Homo sapiens: one gene and its partner. The protein of the gene in region 2 purifies or fractionates together with the protein of the main gene of each other region. This does not show direct contact. Each region holds a gene or a part of one and is shown on either strand. Other genes may lie near its edges.

The links.
Region 1: the proteins of LRRC46 (region 2) and PLCD3 purify together in Homo sapiens (affinity purification with mass spectrometry; 4 studies listed by BioGRID and IntAct, with this or other methods). This does not show direct contact.

What each region holds. Positions count from the first base shown.
Region 1 is NC_000017.11:45,126,016-45,129,688, forward strand, and holds part of PLCD3 (1-phosphatidylinositol 4,5-bisphosphate phosphodiesterase delta-3), read right to left. Parts: intron 1-3,673. UniProt on the Homo sapiens protein: Hydrolyzes the phosphatidylinositol 4,5-bisphosphate (PIP2) to generate 2 second messenger molecules diacylglycerol (DAG) and inositol 1,4,5-trisphosphate (IP3).
Region 2 is NC_000017.11:47,834,670-47,838,219, forward strand, and holds the end of LRRC46 (leucine-rich repeat-containing protein 46), read left to right. Parts: intron 1-683; coding exon 684-730; intron 731-996; coding exon 997-1,106; intron 1,107-1,363; coding exon 1,364-1,433; intron 1,434-1,663; coding exon 1,664-1,806; intron 1,807-2,080; coding exon 2,081-2,451; 3' UTR 2,452-3,050; downstream 3,051-3,550. Other genes in the region: SCRN2 (secernin-2), read right to left, coding at 3,175-3,333. UniProt on the Homo sapiens protein: Required for normal spermatogenesis and male fertility. Plays an important role in sperm flagellum biogenesis.

The DNA.
Region 1 (3,673 bases), 2.7 Mb from region 2:
GGCCAATTTCATTATATATATTTTACCATATTTTTTTTTTTTTTTTGAGATGGAGTCTCGCTCTGTTGCCCAGGCTGGAGTGCAGTAGCACGAACTTGGCTCACTGCAAGCTCCGCCTCCTGGGTTCACGCCATTCTCCTGCCTCAGCCTCCTGAGTAGCTAGGACTGCAGGTGCCCGCCACCACACCTGGCTAATTTTTTTTGTATTTTTTAGTAGAGACGGGGTTTCACCGTGTTAGCCAGGATGGTCTTGATATCCTGACCTCATGATCCGCCCACCTCAGCCTCCCAAAGTGCTGGGATTACAGGCATGAGCCACTGCGCCCAGCCTATTTTTTTTTTTTTTTTTTTTTTTTGAGACAGCATCTCGTTCTGTTGCCCAGGCTGGAGTGCAGTGGCACGATCTCAGCTCACTGCAACCCCCACCTCCCGGGTTCAAGTGATTTCCGGCTAATTGTTGTATTTTTAGTAGAGATGGGGTTTCACCATGTTGGCCAGGCTGGTCTCGAACTCCTGACTTCAAGTGATCCACTCGCCTCGGCCTCCCAAAGTGCTAGGATTACAGGCGTGAGCCACAGCACCCGGCCTATTTTACCATAATTTTTAAAGTTTAATGATATAATATGCTGGAAACCATTGTATACTTTTTTTTTTTTTCTGAGACAGGGTCTTGCTCTGTAGCCAGGCTGGGGTGCAGTGGCACAATAATGGCTCACTGCAGCAGCCTCAAACTCTTGGGCTCAAACAATCCACCTACCTCAGCCTCCCGAGGAGCTGGGACTACAGACTTGCACTACCAGGCCTGAATAATTTTTAAATTTTTTTGTAGAGTTGGGGTCACACTATGATGCCCAGGCTGGTCTCAAACTCCTGGCCTCAAGTGATTCAACAGCCTCTGCCTCCCAAAGTGCTCCGCACTGTGTACTTTCAATGGATAAATTATAAGGTATGTGAATGAATATCTCAAAAATGCTGTTAAAGAAGCAGACAGCCAGGTCGGCACCCGGTGGGGCTGAAATGTGGTGGAAGTTGGGGGAGTCTGACCCCAAAGGGCTGTGTGTGGCCACAACAGGCACAAGCACATGGAGCCTGGTTTAGGCCTGGCCCATAGTGGGTGCTCAGTAAATGATCACAAAGAAGGAAACTGAGGCAGGGCTCTGGGGAAGTGAGTTAGTGCCCCGGGTGGAAAGAGGCACCCACGTGTTCTGATCCATCTGTCCCCTTAGTCCCATGGCCTCCAGGGGGTACCTTCCCCAGACCAGGACAGCGGCACCTCCCGCCCAATTCAGTGTTGTCAGCTGGGGCTCAGACACCTTCCCAAGCTGCCCGCTTATCTCAGCCTCAGAGAGGGGTCAGGCGTGCTGAGGAAAGGGCAGGCCCAGTTTCTCAACTTCCACCTGCAGCCCGGGCGGTTTGGGGCGTGGATGGTCTGGGGCCTGAGCAGTTCTGTAAGGGTAGCCAAGACCAGGGACCAGAAACTACCTCATGTCAGAGCTGGAAGGGGCCCCAAATCCCACCCTTTTCACAGGTGCACCACTGAGCTCAGAGAGGACAAGCCCTGTGTGCTGAAGATAGTGCAGGTCGCCCCCAGGCAGGGATGGATATAGAGGCTGTGCAGTGGAGACAGGCGCCAGGGCAGCTGGCAGGGAGGGTGGGAGTTCTGTCCAGGCGTGTCCCGGAGGGGTGGCATGCAGGCAGGGCAGGGTGTGTGTGGGGTGTATGCATAGGTGGGGAGTGTGTGTGTGCGTGAGACAGTGTGTGTGTATGAGTGTGAGTGAATGTGTGTGAGTGTGTGCGTGTGAGTGTGTGTGTGCGTACAGGGTTCATGGGTGGAGAGGGTGGAAGGTGGGCCAGCCAGGGGGAAATAGGCGGCTCGCACTCGGGAGGTGCACACAGGGCTCCACAGGAATGCGAGTCATGCAGGGAACTGCTACAGCCAGCAGCTGTGGCCAAGGCCGAGCAGGGAGTAGAGAAAGAGCGTTTCCAGGTGGCCGGGGCTGTGAGGCTCTAGGAGAGGACACACAATGGCGAGGGGTCCCAAAGACCCTCCCACCCTAATCCTTTAGCCAGCAGGCAGCCTCCACACCTCAGGCACCAAGCATGTCCCCCGTGACCCAGCTGGCTGCCACACCCAGGGCTGGAGCCTGGCGGGGGCTCGGTGCCAGAGTCCATAACATTCCTTGGAGAATCAACAAAGTCAGGAAAGGCAGGCGGTGCTTCCCTTGGCCCCGGGTGGGACACAGCAAGTGGGGGTGGCAGCACCCTTTTCTCTGGGGCCAGAACAGGCATGAAACCTGGTTGGGTGCGGAAGTCAGGGTAGGGGACAGGGAAAGATGTGAGGGGGACCACAGGGCCTGGCAGAGCCAGCCCCCTAGTCCCACCTGGCATGCCCCTGCTTAGACTGGAGGGCCACCCAGCTTACCCACCACCCAGGCCAGGCACCTGCCAGGGCTGGGGGTTGTTCTGAAGACCCTCACCTGCCAAGTCACCCACAGCAGTCCCACTCACCCTGCGGAAGACATCCCAGGCAGGCCATGGGCCGAGCCCTCTCGCTCAGGGGCACTTGGTAGTGTGTGTAGGCTGGGGAGGCAAGGGGGCAGGATTCTGCCCACTCAGGCCTCTGCCCATGGGGAGGATGAGGGGCAGGGGCGGAGCATCAGGGCACAGGCACACACGGGGCTGTGGGGACACAGGGTGGCCAGAGAAAATCCAGGACACCCGTTAAATGTGAAATTCAGATAAAGAATAATTTTTTAGTATAAATACATTCCATATTCCGCATTTAGCGGAATTCCAAACTTAACCGGGTGTTCTGTATTTTATTTGGCAGCCCTGTGAGGACGCTCCTGGGGGCTGGCAGGGCCCCCATGGGAGAGGAGCGGCCAGGAGGCCCCCTGCAGGTATCAGCTTCTCTATCAGTCACTGTGTGACAAGCACGGACTCTGGGCCACACTGCCTGGGTTCAAATTTTCTCTCAGCTACTTCCCAGCTTTGAACCCTAGGCAAGTTACCAAATCTCTCTGAGTCTTAGTTTCCTCATCTGTAAGAGAAGGCTACTGGTACCACCTACCTCATATTAGTGTGAGCATTACATGAGATAATATGCGAAAAGCGCCTGGGACAGTGACAAAATTGTTCATTAGTATTCATCAGGCTAGCCAAGAATGGTGGCTTACACCTGTAATCCCAGCACTTTGGGAATCCAAGGCAGGAGGATTCTTTTAGCCCAGGAGTTCAAGACCAGCCTGGACAACACAGTGAGACCCCAACTCTACAAAAAACAGAAACAAAATTAGCTGGATGTGGTGGTACCCAGTCTCCCAGTCTCCTGAGTCCCAGCTACTTGGGAGACTGAGGTGGGAGGATCACTTGAGGTCAGGAATTTGAGGTTGCAGTGAGCCATGATCATGCCACTGCACTCCAGCCTGGGTGACAGAATGAGACCCTGTCTCATAAACAACTAACAACAACAGCAACAACAAAAAGTATTCACTGGGAGCCATCATGGAAAACTAGGCTCTGGCAGCAGGCAGGCATGTGGCCTTGGGCGGTGATTTCACCCCTCCGCCTTGAGCTTCCCGTCTGTAATGTGACATGAGGACAGCACCTCCCGCACAGGGATGCCTGAGGATTAAGCAGGATCAGGTCTGATGCAAGCTCAGCACAGTGCCTC
Region 2 (3,550 bases):
ACGAATGACATAGGGTCCTGAATTGAAAAACTAATTCCCTCAAAATAGATCCTGAACATGACCTGTGCTCCTTCCACTGTTCTTTAGGCACTTCTCTTGATCTAGAAGTTCTTTTTGGCATCTACTCTAAATCTTTCACGTTAAATAGCTCCAGCCCATTTCCTGTTTTGAAGAAGAGGAAACTATGAAGATTCCTGTACATCATTCAGATCCTACTTGAAGGCTGTTTGGTGGTGGTGGTGGTGGTTGGTTGATCTTCAGCCTTCCCCTGGTTGAGTATTCCCAGCTCGCTTCAACTTTCCCCATAGAAACTTTAACCGTCAAGTTCCTGTATGCTCATTGTTCTCTCTGTGTATGCAAGCCACCACCAAGGCCCTTTCCGTTTTCCTGGTGGCTTCTTAGTTTCCTTTTCTGATTCCCAGGTCACTCTTTGGTTGTGGAATCAGAAGAGTATACGTAGTCAGGTTTAGATACCCCAGGTTTACACCCTTAACCATCCACATGGGGAAAGAAAATCATCTTTCTTAAGGTAGTGGCAACCTGTTCAAGGAGTGGGGTGATCATTCCCAAAGTGCCAGATCTCCAGCTGCAGAGTAGACATGGTCTTGGGGCTTTGTCCCCGTAAAGGGCCCCTGACGCATCTGATCTCAGCTTGGTTTCCCCACTTCGGTTTCTTCTTGCAGAATAAGATCCAGCAAATTGAGAACCTGGCTTGCATCCCCTCCTTGCGGTATGTGGTGCCAGGGCTCAGGCAGGGGAAGAGGGGTTGGGGGAACCTAGCCATATCCCAAAGAACTGGTTCAGATTTCTCCAAGCCTGGGTCCTTGTCAGTCAAGGACCAGCAAGCCTAGATCTACTCCCTCACCCCAGAAGGCCATGTGTCCCCACTGGTCATCAGCTGCCTAGCCCAGGGGCCCCGGTGTCAGGTGCCCTCCTCTTTTCTTCCAGCTGTTCCATGATTCAGCTCTGCCTCTGTACCCCTTCCTTCCCCTACAGCTTCCTGTCTCTGGCAGGAAACCAAATCAGGCAGGTGGAAAACCTCCTCGACCTCCCATGCCTCCAGTTTCTGGACCTTTCTGAGAACCTGATAGAAACATTGAAGCTGGGTAGGAACCCACTCGCCCTGGCTCACCAAACACATCCCCTGTGGGGCCTGCCCTCCCCTCTGCACCCATCTGCCCATGCTTCTATTAGCCATGCCCCTGCAGGTCCACATTTCATCCTCAGGGAGTTCAAGGGGTTGTGCCTAGAGGTACTGGCTTTGGACTAGAAAGTGGGTATGAGAACCCCATTCCCATCGCTTCATGGTCTTTTGGCTAAGATCAAGTGAGAACCCCATTTCCTCTCTCTTTGCTGTGTGCAGATGAGTTCCCCCAGAGCCTTCTCATCCTCAACCTGTCTGGAAACAGCTGCACCAACCAGGATGGCTACCGGTAAGGAGTGGAGGGTGGGAAGAAAGGTCATGGCTGAGCTCTACCTGCTAACTCAGCCCAGACCCCTCTCAGCCTGCAAACCTGGGGTCCTGTCCATGACACCTTCTCCCCCACCTCCTACCTAGCTCATGAGCCACCACCCCTCCGGGTGTGAGTGCTGTGGTGCGTGTCTTTGCATCCTCCACGCCAGGGTGCCCTCCTGGGTAACCTCTGCTCCTTCTGCTCTGCAGCGAGCTGGTGACAGAAGCCCTGCCACTTCTCCTGGACCTGGACGGGCAGCCTGTGGTGGAGCGCTGGATTTCGGATGAGGAGGATGAAGCCTCAAGCGATGAGGAGTTCCCAGAGCTGAGTGGCCCATTCTGCTCAGAACGAGGTGACCCTGCTTTCCAAGGTTTTCAGCCTCCCCAGAGCCCACCTCTGCCCTGTGGGACATGAGGGAAGCTAAGGTGGCAGTGGCGTCCGGGGAGGGGAGCCCCAAGTTCAGATCAACATCTGGGCCAGAGCCAGGTGTCAGTCCTGGGCCCCAGCCTCAGGCTCCTTCCCACAAGGGACAAGGGGCCAGCCAGAGACTTCCCTGAGCCCAGGGACCCTCCTGCTGAGCCCAGGGCTCCACCCACCCTGTACCCTCCACCCCCGGCCCCTCCCAGGCTTCCTCAAGGAGCTGGAGCAGGAGCTGAGCAGGCACAGGGAGCACCGGCAACAGACGGCCCTGACAGAGCACCTGCTGAGGATGGAGATGCAGCCCACCCTCACCGACCTGCCCCTGCTACCTGGGGTGCCCATGGCTGGGGACAGCAGCCCTTCTGCCACTCCTGCGCAAGGGGAGGAGACAGTCCCTGAGGCCGTCTCCTCACCCCAGGCCTCCTCTCCCACCAAGAAACCATGCAGTCTGATTCCCAGGGGCCACCAAAGCTCTTTCTGGGGAAGGAAGGGGGCACGAGCAGCCACAGCCCCCAAGGCCTCTGTGGCTGAGGCCCCCAGCACAACCAAAACTACGGCCAAGAGAAGCAAGAAATGATTCTCTGTCAACCTTTCTCTACTAGTGGAGAGGAGTGGGGCCTGCCCCTCTTCTCAGACCTCTGACCTGTGACAGAAGCCCATCCCCAGTAAAGTGTCTCTAGGCCCTGAGTATGCTTTTCATGTCACTTGGGGTATCTCAGGGGAAGAAACCAGTGAAAGCTCCAGGAAACAAAATACAGAGCTCAGTGAGCCACCTGATTCTAAAGAGCGAGTCTGGAATCTTTCGGGAGCTACCCACAGGGCAGGCATGCCTCAGGCCCCCGCTGGCTTCCTGGCTCCCACTTGGGCAGGAAGCGGGCACCACCTCATGGAAGAGGCATGCCATCTCACTGCCACCCCTAGCGAGTGCCCTTCCCCGGTCCAAGCCAAGGACCAAGGAGCTGTGGTCCTAGTCATCCCCAACAGCAGCCAGCTCCTGTCCCCTCCCTGTCCTCCTGCCCAGTCCCCATCACTCACCCACTCATAGGAATGAGTACACAACCACAGGCCCCGCAGCCAGCCCACAGCTGCCTTTGGGCCTCACTTGGCTCTCCCACCCCCACTGGTCCTGGGATAAAGTTCACTGAAGAGAAAATAAAGCACATTTATTAAGGCAAAGGCCAAGCTGGCCGCTCAGAACATGGCCAAGGAGCGTGAAGGGATTGCTCCACTTTACCACCACTCAGGGCACCCAGGCCCCAGGGGTCCTGGGTCCACCCCAGGCCAGCAGAAGCTATGAAGCTTACGCATAAGCCTGGCTCTCCCTCTTCACGAAGGCCTGGAAGAGGCTGCCCAGCTCCCAGAGGGGTGGGGCCCACTCGCCGGCCAGCAGCCCCTGTGTGGCCTCGAGGCCTTCCTGCTCCAGATCCTGCTGTTTCTGCTGGAGCTGCTGCCCCCGATCCTGCCCCAAGGGAAAGCTGAGATGAGTCTGTCCGGGACAGGCTTCCCGCCAGGTGAAGGGGGGACTGTGTACCACCTCACACAAGCAGGAGAAAGGAGATACCCCCCGACATTCCCCAAAGGCAGTTGCTGGCTTTGAAGGGAGGAACTCCTCTCCCCAGCTCTGAAATCTCTTCCACTCCCTAGTTCCTTCATATTTCCAGAGTCCCACTGGGAGT